4 linked regions of the Homo sapiens genome follow. The protein of the gene in region 3 purifies or fractionates together with the protein of the main gene of each other region. This does not show direct contact. Each region holds a gene or a part of one and is shown on either strand. Other genes may lie near its edges.

Region 1 (3,566 bases), on a different chromosome or scaffold from region 3:
GCTGGTCTTGAACTCCTGACCTCAAATGATCCACCCACCTCAGCCTCCCAAAGTGCTGGGATTACAGGTGTGAGCCACCGTGCCTGGCCCACCTCAGCTTTCTGACAGGGCCCAGCAGCAGCATGTGGCACCTCATCAACCCACCACTACCCTGGATTTAAAGCGTCTCATTTAAAAATGTACATAGCCCCCAGGGCAATTCCCCCTTTAAGTTTCTCAGTGAGCACCTGAGGCGGTTCAGAGTCAGGTAAGCTGGGGGGTGAACAGAGATTATCCAGGGCAAGCCCTCAATTCACAGATTGGGGCCAACAGATCCTCTAGACCCTGGGACTAGGTCAGCCATGGCTAGGGCTGCCCATGAAAGGTCTCTAAGTGGAGCTATGTGGATGTAACCTCTTCTGCAGCACAGGCAGACAGGAGGGGATGCTGCCCAGGACTGGGTGAGAAAGAACTTCTGAGGCCCAGAAACAGCCAGCAGGCCTGGTGGTGTCCTTGCCGCGAAGCAGGAGTACTGCCTTACTTGGCTGCATGAGTGGTTTCTGGAGGCTGACAGTGCTGGCGTTACAGGACAGCAAGGCCAAGGTCTGGGGCTCCCCCAGCCCTGTGTTCATCTCACCTTGCACAGGCCACCAAGCACCCTGGACTTCAGGCATGCATCTGTGAGTGACAAGGAAGGTGCTAGAACCAGGCCCTCTCGCACCCTCACCTCACCTATACCCTTTGTGCTGTGGAGTAGCTGCTTCAGAAGTAAAAGCAACCTTGATCCAAGTCATTGTTGCTACCCTCAAGCCAGGACCAGACGGAGGCCCAGCCTAGCTTTGAGCACACAGCTGCAGGCACAGCCGTGAGTCAGCTCCAACAGCGCCCTGGCCATTCTGTGAGATGTCTGCACAGAGCACAGAAGAGGGGCCCAACCTAGCCCGGGTTGGGAAGGAGCCTTCCATGGAGGAGAGGACAGTGAGCCAAGTGTCCTCGAAGTGAGCCAAGTAGCTCAAAGGGTAGGTGGGGCGGAGGAGGTGCGTTTAGGCAGAGGAAACAGCATGTGTGAAAGCAAGGAAGGAAGGAGGGAGGAATCTGGGACTGCAGGACCATCAAGTGCTGGGGGAAAGGTGGGTAAGGCCAGGTCATGGGGAGCGGGGGGTGGTGCTTCAGCATCAGGAACTCAGACTGTTCGTGCAGGTGACGGCAGGAAGAGGAAAGACTGGAGATGGTGACTTTCACCCTCTAGACAGAACACACAAGGGCATAGACCCAGAGAGGGGCTAATGCCTTGCTTAAGGCCGGTCACGCACACTGAGCTGGGATGAGAGTGGAGGCTTCCTTGGTCCTGGTCTAAGGCCTCTCCCACCTCACCATACTGAGAGAACTAAGAACAAGACTAGGAAGCATTTCTGGGAGTTGCTGAGGAGGTGGAGCTGTGGTGCAGGAAAGGGAGGTCAATGGGGTGGGCCACAGCACCCCACTGTTTGCAATGTGCAGGGCTGTGACTCTCTCCACTTTAGGCACCACCAGTAAGGCCCCAAGAGCGCCTGGCTCACCCACTGCCACGGACCTCCTTTGGTCCCCTCCCAGGTCACTTTTGCTGGGGCGCCAGACTGAAGTGCCTTGGGGCCTCCTTGGCCCCAGCGGAGCGGTTTCCTTGGTCTTGGCAGGGCCTCAGTAGGCCAGGTAAACCAGCAACAGAGGGTGAGGGTTTTTGAATGTCTAAATCACTGGACACAGTCTGAGGAAATCATCCTCATTTCTTAGATACACGTAAAAGAAGACAAACTAAACAATGTTGGCTTTCTCTCAGTCTTTCTTCCTCCACTGACACGATGGAGGCCGTACCTGTAATGGCGGGTGTCCCGGATGGGCCGGTCTGGGCTCAGCTTGTCACTCTCCAGCTGGTTGAAGGCGTGCTGTCTGTAGGGGTCCTCTCCAGCCTTCAGCTGCTTGGCCGACAGGTAGGCCTTCTCATCAAAGCCTTTCGAGGGAGTTCCTGTCACCTGAGATGAAGGTCAGCATCAGAGAGGACCACAGGCAGGAGGACCCCACTGCTTGGCGAGTGCTCAGCACACACCAGGCGGGAGCCAGCCACGTGGCCTCATTTGTGCCTTACGCCAACTCTATGAGGAGGAGACCATTATCTCCCCCACTGTACAGAAGAGAAAACTGAGGCTCAAGAGGGTTTCTTTTTTTTTCTTTTTTTCTTTTTTTTTTCTTTTTTTTGACACAGGGTCTTATTCTGTCACCCAGGCTGGAGTGCAGATCTTGGCTCACTGCAACCTCTGCCTCCCAGGTTGAAGCGATTCTCCTGTCTCAGCCTCCCAAGTAGCTGAGATTACAGGTGCGCACCACCACGCCTAGCTAATTTTCATAGTTTTGGTAGAGGTGGAGTTTCGTGGTGTTGGCTAGGCTGGCCTTGAACTCCTGACCTCAAGTGATCCACCCACCTCAGCCTCCCAAAGTGCTGGGATTACAGGCATGCGCCACCGCGCCCGGCCATCAAGAGGCTTTTTAAAAAGCATCCAGGGTCAGAGCTATTAAGTCACAAGGTCTGGATTTAAACTGGTCATTCCGACTCCAAAGCCCATGCTCTTAACCAATGTTCTTTGCGGGATATTGGGGGGGTGAGTCCTGGAGTGCACCAGACCTCTAAGGCAAGGTGTCCTGAGGGGACTACAAACCAGAATGGATGCTGCCAAGCGCCTGCAGATTGACAGTCTCCTAGGCAGAAACTTGGGCCTAGCCCTGGCCTAGGCATTATATGAGGCACCCGATCAGTAAAACACCAGGGCTTGGACAATCTGCTGCATAAAGAACTACCTGTAAGGACAGCAAACCCCTGCAGGCTGATGCCAGAGCTACCAGAACTCAAGTGCTCAGACAGTGATGCATCTTCTCTGGGACTTTTGCTTGCTCCTGAAATGGCCCCTGTAAGATCCACTGGTCCCCAGGCACTAAGTGCTGGGCAGTGATGGATGGCAGATGCCATTGCCCATCCCGTTCCTTCATGGCCACACCCTACCCTGTGCTCCCAGAGTCTCCAGCAACAGACACTGGGGAAGGACACATCTGAAATTAACAGATGGATGCAAGCACCCTGACATCTCATTACTTGAACCAAACTGCTGGCTGGATGTTCTCCAGAGTGCCATGAAATATCATCAACTGTGGGTACATCCCAACTCCAACTTTCCGCCCAACCATCAGCCCTGGGCTGAAGCTGGGGCCCCAGAGGAAGCAGAAAGGAGGGTGAGAATTGCCCACTCACAAAACTCTTGCATGAGGATGCTATCACAGGCCTAGTCCTAGAGGGATGGTCCCAGCAAGGCAGCTAGACCTGTGGGGAGTGGATCGCTGTGTGGAATGACACTGGGACTGTCACCAGCAGCTCAGGGCCTCTATGTTCCCCTGAGAGCCTAGCCCCCGACCTCACTGGACAGGCATGCCCAGGGTCCGGGGAGCTCTGATCTCCTGAACTGCTGCCACTCTGTAGCGATACTACCTTCTAGGGTTGCCTCCTGTCCTAGGAGCCAGTTGGAGGTTCCCTGAGGGCAGAACAGTGAGGGAGATGTCCTCGT
Region 2 (3,566 bases), on a different chromosome or scaffold from region 3:
GAACTACTGCTGGCAATAGTCTATAAACTGGGCTCAAACTTTTATTGATTTTCTGTGTCTGGTTATAAAAATAGGAAGGGTCCAAGGCAACAATTTTAGAAAATAAAACCAGAAATCAGTTGGGATATTCCAGCCCAAAGACTGCCACCTAATAGACTGTTCCCCAGTTTTTCACCATTACTAAAGTGAATGCAAAACTTTCGTATCACTGTATTCTTACCTAAGGCTTCCCACTGCCTATAGGATAAAGTATAAGCCCCATTCAGGGAGCATTTACCTACTTTCCCAGTCTTATGACCTGCAATTCCAAGAGTATCATCCTCACAGATACTCTTTGCTAACACCTCTCCCTTTATCTGCTATGCAGACTCCTCTAAATCCTAACACTGCTCAAAAGTTACCTCTTGTGTGAAATATCCCTGGCTTCTCTCCTGTCTCACTGTGTCCTCTCCTTTAGGCCTTTCGTAGCTACCTCTTATAAGCCTGTATTGTTTTGCCCACTCTTAGAAGGTCCTACAAGCAGAAACTGTCTCTTACACATTTTTGTGTTGCCATACCGAACATTATGGCCTGCCACTTATTGGGCACTCAACCTCTGCATGTTGAAAATGTACTTTTAAAATGTTAACTCAAAATGTTTAGAGTTAAGGGGGAAAATATCCTCAATATATTCAAAATGCACAAACATAGGTTCTCAACTAATTCAAATTCCAAAACTTTTAGAAATATTCACTCACTGTTGCCACAGGACACCTGAGAGAGCTAACACCTGATAATTTGTAACCATATAGGCTACTACTAAGTCTACCACTTACCCTCTGATTTTTAAAGAAAAGCATTCCTTAGTCTGGGCTGAGTCGACTGCTTTATAGCTTGTCCCTCAAAAACATAATTTGAGCTAAAGGCCAAATAAAAATATATACTATATGACCATTTATATAAATTTTTTCAAGCATAGCCAAACTAATTTAATGTGTCAGAAGGTAGGATAATGGTTTCCTTTGGGAGCACTATACGGAAACGGTTGGGAAGAGGCAAGAGAAAGGCTGCCGGGATGCTAGAAACCTCTTCTTGACTTGGGTAGTGTTTACACTGGTAGGTTCACTATGTGGTAATTATGACTTGTGTACTTTTCTGTATTTGTCCATAAACTTAAAAAATTTATACTTGAGAAGTTTGTTCTCTAGTAATTGTTGATAATGTGTCTGAATAATTATGTGTTTACTCATAGGGGAAAAATGAAATTGGATTTTATAAAAGGCAAAGTAACTCAATCAGCACAGTGGAACTCTACTATATTTTAATTCATCTTGGTTAAAGAAACATCTAGATCAGGTTTTAACATATGATCCACCACTTTTAGACTTATTACATTGTATAGTCCATCTTAACTATACCATTTCTAATTTCCAGTAAGACAGCTCAGTAGTTAAGGTAACATCCAAAAATTTCTTTCATAGCCATCAACAATTTAAGTCCCCCTGCCCCTTTTTAAAAAAAACTATCAGTCATGCCTGACACAAACAACTGCTTTTCATAATCTTCCCAAATAATTTCTATATTGTTCCATCTTATTGGCCTTTACTGTTTGTAATTCCTGCTTTATGAGAAAAAAATTTCAATAGGGTTTCCTAATTTGTTAATATCTTTTCATGTGGCAAAAATACTAACTCTAAGATATGCTTGTTTTCTCCCAAAAATGTTTCTGTCCAGTTATACCAATGAAATTGGTCCACTTTCCTTTATTAAAGGAAAATTTAAGTATGCTATCAAATTCTCTAGTCAAATTTTAACCTGAGGTTACCTCAGACTGTGCAATGTGTACCTGCACAAACTGAATGTGGTCATCATCACTGCCAAACACCTCAGCCTGTCCATCTAGTAGGTTCCCATCAAGCAGCTTGTGATCAGCTGAGTAGTACAAGGTTTGAACCTGCAAAACAGCAACAGAACACCCATGTGGCTACGGTCACCATGGCTACTCCACTAGTATGCAGATTACACAAACGCCTCAAGGTAACCTCCAGTGTGCTTCTTGAGCTTCTTGACATATTACTCTGGCAGGATCCGGAGGTAAAGAAAAATACATGTCATGGTGGTAAAAATTAAAAAACAAAAACAAAAAACCAAAATCAAATACAAAATCTTCCAATACTGGCTGAAGAGTCGTTGGCTTGATTGGCTTGAAAGAAATCTTCATTTTTTTCATAGCTTCTATCATATAACAGTAAGAAAAAAAGCACTAGTACAATATATACTCTTAAAGAATATACATATTTACAATAAAATACTGAATATAGTTTACACCTTTGCAGATAAGTGGTCTGGTTTGCATAAACATATTTCCTTCCTGTAAGCAATGTCAAGAAAAACAAAGAAAAAACAAATGCAAAAATTCAAGCAAGCTGTAGAGTCATCTCCATTGAGACAGATGCAAATACATGGCAAATGCATCTGACTTTCAAGTGGGAATCATAGAATTTAAAGATAATCTGTTAGCCCTTTTAGACCATAATGATGACAGTGTTTCTGCAGGCCTAACAGATTTGGTAAGCCCTCATAAAGGAACTCCGAAAGGTTTAAGTGGAGAGAGAAACTCAAGGTTACTCCACTGCTCCACCTGCGTGTTTTCAATTCCCACCATTTCTCCATCAATTTTATCTTGTGTATTTTTTTTAAAAGTAGCCCAAGTTAAGTGAGTGACTATATGTATGAACAACACCATTGAAAAACACACAGCTTTAAAGACAAGAATCCTGTAAAGGAGTAAACACCATTAAATCATCATCGTTCTCTGCCCACAGCGGATTTTTCTTAGGAGAACTGGGGCAGGACTGCTGCTTCTTTACGTGTCAATACACTTGAGGTTTCTTCTTGTTTCTTCAGTCTTGGGTATCCTAGTTTTGTTAATAAACCTATGGGGAGATAAATCAATGGGGAGGAACAACCATTAGAAGCTTTTACCTACTTGTCAAATTTAAAGCAAAAACCTGTGAAGAAAAATTAAGAATCTACAGAAAATTTCAGTACCACTTCCCATTTCTAAAGCAAATTACATGCTACTTTAAAGAAAGTTAACAGCACATAATAAGCAAAGAAATAAAAAAAGAAAAGCAGAAGACCAAACTGAACAGTTCATTCAGCTCACCTGGACACCCCCCCTGTTTCTCAGCTTAGGGGTACCTATAGCAAAATTTAAATTCTTTAGGGTCATGGTTATAAAATAAAAGTGAAAGGGAATCCTTCATGTTATAGCAAAATAATTTTTAAAAATGGTTGAATCCCATTTACTTTAAAACTAACCTCTTCCATCAGCTCTTCCAGACTGTCTCCATTCTCCCAGATGCTACGCTGCACCCAGTTGATTACCTTTGTATATAATTTGCCATTGCTGGGCAAGCAAACATTATCTTCAAGCATTACCTCCAACTAGAATTGGGAAAAACAATGACATGGATCAGTGTTGGGCTCCTAGTTCTCAGCTTAATTCCCAATTTCATAATAAAGTTGTCACAGATGCACAATTCATTCCATACATTTACTCTAATTTGTAAGGAACCAGGAAT
Region 3 (3,566 bases):
ACAAAAGCATCTCTAAAAATGTCATTTACTGGACTTGACAGTATAATCTTTTCGGCTTTTCAATTGCAGGTATCATACAGATCATTTTATTTTATTAACTTTTTAAGCACTTGGCTCAAGCAACTTTGGAAGAAGGCTTTGTGAGCTTACAAATCTTATTCCAAGTGTTATTTTTTAAACAGTTACAACTAAAACGAGGTCTTACCTTTTCAAAAGAGGAGAATAAAGTTTTTCTTTTATAAAAATTGCTCCCCAAACTCACAAACACCCAAACCGACATAAAAAGTTGGTCTATCTTCTTAGGAATCAATAAGAAGTGAGGTTACAGGGGAGAGGGAGGAACAAGCATGACGGTTCCTGTGAAATCCATCCCACCGAGCAGTCACTCTTATGTTTCCAGTTTGGCCCTCGGGAGTTTTCCTAAAGGAAAACTCAGTCATCTAAGCCTATGTTTCTGAAAAGGTAGGACATGGACTCCCCATTGTGGATCCGACGGATCGCCTCTGAAAGGATCATGCTGATATCCACAGTTTTAATCTTGGGGCACTGGAGCTTCTGGACTTCATGTGGAATTGTATTGGTGACCACCACCTGTGAAGCAAAAGAAAAAAAACCACAGCATCAGAAAGCCAAGTAGCTTCATGGTTTGATCTGGAAATGTGACAGCTTCTCAAATCTGAGGCTTGCCACGACAGGAAAACACAGTGGATCTATGTCTCAAGTCAATGTTTCAATTATTTATTTATTTATTTATTTTTAGACGGAGTCTTGCTCTGTCGCTCAGCCTGGAGTGCAGTGATGCCATCTCAGCTCACTGCAAGCTCTGCCTCCTGGGTTCATGCCATTCTCCTGCTTCAGCCTCCCAAGTAAGCTGGGACGACAGGCGCCCGCCACCACGCTCAAGTAATTTTTTTGTATTTTTAGTAGAGACGGGGTTTCACCGCGTTAGCCAGGATGGTCTCGACCTCCTGACCTCATGATCCACCGGCCTCGGCCTCCCAAAGTGCTGGGATTACAGGCGTGAGCCACCGCGCCCAGCCTGTGTTTCTTAGGTTAAGATTTGATAACCTCACACCCACTAGGATAGGTATGGCAAAAAAGATAATAACAAGTACTGGAGGGATGCAGAGAAACTGGAGCCCCCCCCCAACTCACGGCTGTGGGAATGTAAAATGGCGCAGCTGCTTTGAAAAACAGTCTGGCAGCTCCTTGAAAGTTTAAACATGAAGTTACTGTATGACCTGGCAGTTCTAAACCTAGGTACGTATCCAAGAGAAGAGAAAACACATGTCCACACAAAAACTTGTACACAAATGTTTACTGCAGCACCATTCATAAGTTAAAAAGTAGAAAAAAAATTTTTTCTATCAACATGAAATACGAAGAGAGAGACAAAATGTGGACTATCCATGTAACACAGCATTATTTGATCATAAAATGAAGTATTGATTCATGCTCCAACATGGATGAACCTTGAAAATATTATGTTGAGTGAAGACAGCCAGACACAAAAGACCACACATTGTATAATCTCATTTATATGAAATGTCCAGAACAGGCAAATCTAGAGAGACAGAAAGCAGATTAGTGGTTCCCAGGGACTAATGGCAGTGAGAGAAAATGTGAAGTGACAGCTAATGGGTATGGGGTTCCTTTCTAGGAAGAAGAAAATGTTCTAAAACCAACTATGGTAATGACTGCACAACTCTGAACATTCTAAAAACCAATGAGTTGTACACATTATTATTATTATTATTATTATTATTATTATTTGAGACAAGAGTCTCATTCTGTCACCCAGGCTGGAATGCAGTGGCACAATCTCGGCTCACTGCAGCCACTGCCCTCTGGGTTCCAGTGATTCTCTTGCCTCAGCCTCCCAAGTAGCTGGGATTACAGGTGTGTGCCACCACGCCCGGCTAATTTTTGTATTTTTAGTAGAGACGGGGTTTCACCCTGTTGGCCAGGCTGGTCTCCAACTCCTGACCTCAGGTAATCCACCTGCCTCGGCCTCCCAAAGTGCTGGGATTACAGGCGTGAACCACTGCACCCAGCCCTTGAATCGTTTCTCAGCCACAAAAGATCTCAGTCTTGTCCTGACTCTCTGTAACTAAAGATCAAGATGTGCCAAAAGCCCAGGCAGCTGTACCCACACACACCCAGACCCTGTTACCTCATCAATGGCAGACTCTTCAATCCGCCGGGGGGCGTCAGAAGACAACAAGCCATGAGTTGCCATCACAAAGATCTTATATGCACCTCTTTCCTTCAGGGTCTCTGCTGCAGCAAGAAAGCTGTCAACATCATCAATGATGTCATCCTGCCAAAGCACAGATGGAAAAGAATGTATATGAGCACTTCTACAATAATAGGTTAGACAACCAGGAAAAAAAAAGGGTCTGCCTACATTTACCGTGAAAAATCTGCTCTTCCACTTGGCCTTGTGCAGACGGCATGGCCCCATGTCCCCATCACCGTGCCCCATGGCAGCCCTCCAGTACTTTCACACGAGCCTCTTCCTGCACAGCACCTGCCACTATTGGAGCTATCTCCCACCACACTCCAGGCTCCCAGGGGTAGCACTGTTTTCTGCACCATAACTGGCCAACATTGTGCTGTCACAATGCAGGTCACACCAGAAATGATGGAGGTATAATTTTCTTTTTTTGTTTTTAATGCACAGAAAAAGTGTTAAAAGATGTTTTTGACTCTGGGTAATAGAATTATGGGTGCCTCTTTCCCCCCACTTCTTCTTGCTACTTTCCTTATTTCCAAATTTTCTCCACTGAGCATATGGGAAATATGTTTTTTTACATGTTATTACAATGGAAAAAATAATAATGATTATTGTTTTTAATAATAAAATACCCAGTTCAGTGGTTTCCAATCTAGAGACTAGATTCCCAGGCTCCCAGAGTTATTTTAAACCCATTATGGCATCAAACGTTGTCTAGAGTTGAATAAATATTCGTGTCTTTATTTTACATACATATTATTACTCTTTAATTGCATACTGATGTTACTATGATCAAAAATATACATATAAAGGCCAGGCGTGGTGGCTCATGCCTGTAGTCCCAGCACTTTGGGAGGCTGAGGTGGGAGGATTGCTTGAGCTCAGGGGTTCAAGACCAGCCTGAGCAACATGACGAAACCCAGTCTCTACAAAAACAGAAAAGCAAAAATTAGCCATGCATGGAGGTACGCACCTGTAGTCCTAGCTACTTGGGAGGCTGAGGCAGGAGGATTGCTTTAGCCAGGAGGTAGAAGTTGCAGTGATCTGTGATCAAGCCACTGCACTCCAACCTGGGCAGCAGACCCAGACCATACCTCAAAAAAAATACATACACACACACACACGCTACTTTAAAAGTCCTACTAGTAAAATGGTACAGCCACTTTGGAAAACAGTTTGACAGTCTCTTATAAGAGTATATCTGCAACTACCATGCAAACCAACAACTGCATTTGTAAGTGCAATTATCCCAGAGAAATTAAAACTCTGTTCACACAAAAACCTATACATGAATGTACATAGCGAGTTTTATGTATAATAGCCCCAACCT
Region 4 (4,192 bases), on a different chromosome or scaffold from region 3:
GCCTTGGCCTCCCGGAGTGCTGGGATTACAGGCGTGAGCCACCGTGCCAGGCCTGTTTTTTGATTTTTTTAATAGGCCATTTTAAGGACTTTACCACCTGGAGCTTGTAACCTAATAGGACTGTGAAACATACACTGGTAGCATCCTGGCACCAGTGCTGGGGTGAGTGCCACAGGAGAGGAGCCAAGTGCAGTCAGAGTAGAAGGACTCAAATAGAAGAGATCACATCTGGTTGAGTCAAACAGTAAACGTCCCCAGAAGACACTGGAAGATGCAGGCTGGAGAGAGCTACACTTTACATACAGCACGACAGTATAGAGATATTAATAGCATACAGTCACTTCAGGTAACTACAAGTAATTTTAAAACATCTGAATAAGTGCTTCTTTGTTGTCTGTGGAGTGCTACACAATGCTTCGGCCTAAACGTCAAGCAACACAGAAAAGAAGCCCCACTTCATTTGCAGCCTCAGATAGCTTACGAAATTGAGACACCACCTGAAGACCATGACCCATACAATCAAAGTGACTTCATGGAAGACGAGTAACTGCAAAACCCTGTGAAAACAGATTGTTAACGCTACTAATGAAAAGAACTGGATTGTTACGGGAACCTCAAACTGTCCTTTGATCAACGGACATGACGCCTCAACACGCATTTTCCAAAGATCTCTGCTGATAATTCTGACCTTCGGTTAATTTAATTAATTTCATTTGATTTAATTCATTTTAGTGTTGTCCTCAGTCCCGCACTCAAAACAGATTTTTATTATATGAAAATCTTCCTAGTCACCTAAAAAATCCGCATTCTATGGAAAAGACTATATAATTTTTCAAGAGATTCTTTGCAATTTTCACCTATGCTGGTTTATGACCTAGTTAGAGAAGACATCATAGGGCATTATTTAGGTAATAAAATACAGAGAGAAAAGAGCCACTGGCATTTCTAAATAACGTTCCTGTGTTTCCTACTGTAAGTATAGGAAAGTAGGTGTTCGCAGATGCAGAGAAAGGGCATCTCCAAGGCCTCGGAGGAAACTTTTGATTTTATAAATAACTTGATGGTGGAAGGCAAACGCCATCCCGGTTCCCAAGCAGGCTCCACGCAGCCTCCATGGCCGAGTCCATCTCCTCGCCGTCCTCTTCCCTCCTCCCGGCCGACTTCCAGCCGGTGCGGGAGTCGGGGTGCGCCCGGCCCTCCTAGCGCTGCGCCGCCCGCGCCGACGTGGCGGAGCGCACAGGTCGACCGGGTCAGGTGGTTGGGTGACGCCCCAGGAAAGCGCTCCAGGCCGAGGGCGGGCGGCGCCGCCGCGCCCGACGCCTCTGGGGGTGGGGACTTCGCGGGAGTCGCCGGCGGAGGCGAGGAGGAGCTCTGCGCGGCGCGGCGGGCGATCCGAGCCGGGACGGGCTGCAGGCGGGGGTGCTGCAGAGGACACGAGGCGGCGGGCTGGAGACATGGACCGCGGCGAGCAAGGTGAGGGCGCGGACCCAGCGGGCTTGGGCTCGGGCTTGGACTCGGGCTTGGACTCGGGCTTTGGCTCGGCGCGGGGCTGAGCGCGGCCCGGCGGCTCGAGCAGGTGCCGAGCCTCCTGGGCCGGCGCCGCAAGTTGCATCTCCCGGATCCGGATCTGGCATCCTGGGGCCCTGGAAGGAGCGGCTCTGGCGGGGGCAGATGGGACTGCATGTGTGAGTGTGAGTGTGCGTGTGTGGGGGAGAGGGAGAGAAGGTTCTGGGAGGTGGCGAAGGGGCTAGCGTCAGGGGCTGGCGGCCGTGATGCGCTTTGGGTGGAAAGCCGCGTGAAGGGAGCACGGCGCAGCCAGCTCCTGTAAGTGACTGGAACCAGGAACAGAGGACAGTGAGTCGCTCTCGTCCCTCCAGGTGGGAAACCCCTCTCTCCCTCATAAATTAAGACTTTCTGCCTTCTTCTAAGTTCAGGTGGTTAGGATTTTTGGTGGCGTATGACCCATGGGGGGTTTGGGAGGCAGATATTTATCATACTAGAAACCCCCAGATTGTGGAGTGGTGTCTGTGGGTTTGAGGGAAGAGAGCTTTTCGTAGGAAGGGTGAAATCCCACAACACAAAACCTTCAGTCTAATTTACCATAGCGTTGGGTGCACTTGCTTCTGAAAACAGCTCAAGTGAAATTACCCCCAAATAGAGCAATAGTAGGCCATGGTTTTCAGATTTAAATAGTTTCATCCTAGAGATCTCTGCTGATCATAAGCCTGTGACTGTACGCAGATGTGTGTGGCACGCTTTTAAAAAGATACATAAATGCTGAAAAAAGAAAACAAGGTAGGTAATCTTGGGAAGTGAGGATAGGAATCACTCCTGTTTTGAGCCCTGACACAAGTTTTCATGTATTGCTTATTTTCCTCCAGTATGTGCCGTCATGTGTGCATTTTTATGTAAATCAAACCATATTCCAAATATACTATCTTGTACTTTATTTTTTTCAGACTCTGGTGTTTTTTTTGTTTGTTTTTTTGAGTCTCCACCTGTAGCCCAGGCTGGAGTGCAGTGGCGGGATCTCAGCTCACTGCAACCTCTGCCTCCCTGGTTCAAGTGATTCTCCTGCCTCAGCCTCCCAAGTAGCTGGGATTACAGGTGTGCGCCACCACAGCCCGGCTAATTTTGTATTTTTAGTAGAGACAGAGGTTTCTCCATGTTGACCAGGCTGGTCTCCAAGTCCTGACCTCAGGTGATCCACCCGCCTCAGCCTCCCAAAGTGCTGGGATTACAGGTGTGAGCCACTGGGCCAGGCCTGTACTTTACTTTCATTTACTTGTAAGATAGACTCTTTGGAGTCTTTCAGCTCTTTCCTCGCTCCCCTTCAGATTAATTTCAGACTTAACACAAGTGCTTACAAACATTACATACAATATGCTTTATATGTGTTACCTATGTGTATATATATATTATACATTACCTGTATAACGTATATATACACATACATATTATTATCTAAATTTTAAGCTTCTTGAGGTTAGAAACATTTCATCTTTGGTTGTCCTGAGTGGGATAACATGATGACTTGTACATAGTAGACATGCAAATGTTTGAGTTAGAAAGCTTGTCACATGTCTTGTATATATTGTTAGCCGGCTTAGGGGCCACCATGTAAGTCAGCATTATGTCTGTCTGGCTTTCAATGGGGGCGACGCAGGACGGGGGAGACATGACGACAAACGTGCCCATGTGTATTTGTATACTAATCTGTTACACACTGTCGTTTGACATAATGATGTTTTTAGAATAACTATGTTTGGTACTTGTCAAAGTAAATTAAACGGCTGTGTTTTACTTACGTGAGTGGAGTAACTAGTTTTAGTAGTGTTTGTGTTCTAGCTTGGGTGGTAAGAATCAACAGTCATTGGTAGCACTGCAGTATTCCAACTTCTTGTGTAGTTTTTATAGGACTAGTTTAAGTGTCTAATTCTAAGACATATTTTTTTCAAATCTTTATCTTGTAAGATGAGTCTTTTCGTGTCTATAATTTTCCCATATGTTCTTTGGGTGAGGTGGAGGACTCTGCTCCGAATGAAAGAAGAGGCACTGCCTTGGGAGGGTCAGTTCATTTACTCCAAAGCTTTGCTGTGTTAGAACAACGTGGCCAAGGCTGGGTGCGGTGGCTCACACCTGTAATCCCAGCACTTTGGGAAGCTGAGGCAGGCAGATCACTTGAGGCCAGGAGTTTGACCCCTGTCCAACAAGGTGGAACCCTGTCTCTACTAAAAATACAAAAATTAGCTCGGCGCGGTGGCACCGGCCTGTAGTCCCAGCTATTCAGGAGGCTGAGGCAGGAGAATCACTAGAAACTGGGAGGCAGAGGTTGCAGTGAGCTTAGATCAAACCACTGCACTCCAGCCTGGGCGACAGAGCGAGACTCTATCTCAAAAAACAAACAAACACAAAACAAAACCACCTGGCCATTCCTTACTCTTGCTTCCACCTGCCTACCTGCCTTTTCATCTTTATGTTACCAGTGCACACAGTAGGTGCTTAGAAATATGTGTTGACTGCCTAAGATGAGTGAGGAAAGTGTCCAAGAGCAGGCCCCAGCCATAGTAACCTCTGTGTCCCTCCAAATCCATCTCTTGTTTCCCACTTTCTCCTGTTCTGTTTTCCCTGTCTATTCTCAAGAAGCAGAACTTAGCCAGAGAGTTGCTGATAAGGCAGTGCTGGGCTTGGA

The links.
Region 1: the proteins of PRPSAP2 (region 3) and GALNT16 purify together in Homo sapiens (affinity purification with mass spectrometry; 2 studies listed by BioGRID and IntAct, with this or other methods). This does not show direct contact.
Region 2: the proteins of PRPSAP2 (region 3) and IVNS1ABP purify together in Homo sapiens (affinity purification with mass spectrometry; 2 studies listed by BioGRID and IntAct, with this or other methods). This does not show direct contact.
Region 4: the proteins of PRPSAP2 (region 3) and TPD52 fractionate together in Homo sapiens (co-fractionation; one large-scale study listed by BioGRID). This does not show direct contact.

Annotation. Positions count from the first base shown.
Region 1 is NC_000014.9:69,319,133-69,322,698, reverse strand, and holds part of GALNT16 (polypeptide N-acetylgalactosaminyltransferase 16), read right to left. Parts: intron 1,989-3,566; coding exon 1,831-1,988; intron 1-1,830. UniProt on the Homo sapiens protein: Catalyzes the initial reaction in O-linked oligosaccharide biosynthesis, the transfer of an N-acetyl-D-galactosamine residue to a serine or threonine residue on the protein receptor.
Region 2 is NC_000001.11:185,303,711-185,307,276, forward strand, and holds part of IVNS1ABP (influenza virus NS1A-binding protein), read right to left. Parts: intron 3,430-3,566; coding exon 3,304-3,429; intron 2,918-3,303; exon of another isoform or gene 2,778-2,917; coding exon of another isoform or gene 2,775-2,777; intron 1,934-2,774; coding exon 1,826-1,933; intron 1-1,825. UniProt on the Homo sapiens protein: Involved in many cell functions, including pre-mRNA splicing, the aryl hydrocarbon receptor (AHR) pathway, F-actin organization and protein ubiquitination.
Region 3 is NC_000017.11:18,927,565-18,931,130, reverse strand, and holds part of PRPSAP2 (phosphoribosyl pyrophosphate synthase-associated protein 2), read right to left. Parts: intron 2,321-3,566; coding exon 2,174-2,320; intron 592-2,173; coding exon 433-591; 3' UTR 1-432. UniProt on the Homo sapiens protein: Seems to play a negative regulatory role in 5-phosphoribose 1-diphosphate synthesis.
Region 4 is NC_000008.11:80,168,706-80,172,897, reverse strand, and holds the start of TPD52 (tumor protein D52), read left to right. Parts: upstream 1-1,333; 5' UTR 1,334-1,454; coding exon 1,455-1,473; intron 1,474-1,776; exon of another isoform or gene 1,777-1,877; intron 1,878-4,192. Other genes in the region: TPD52-MRPS28 protein, read left to right, coding at 1,455-1,473.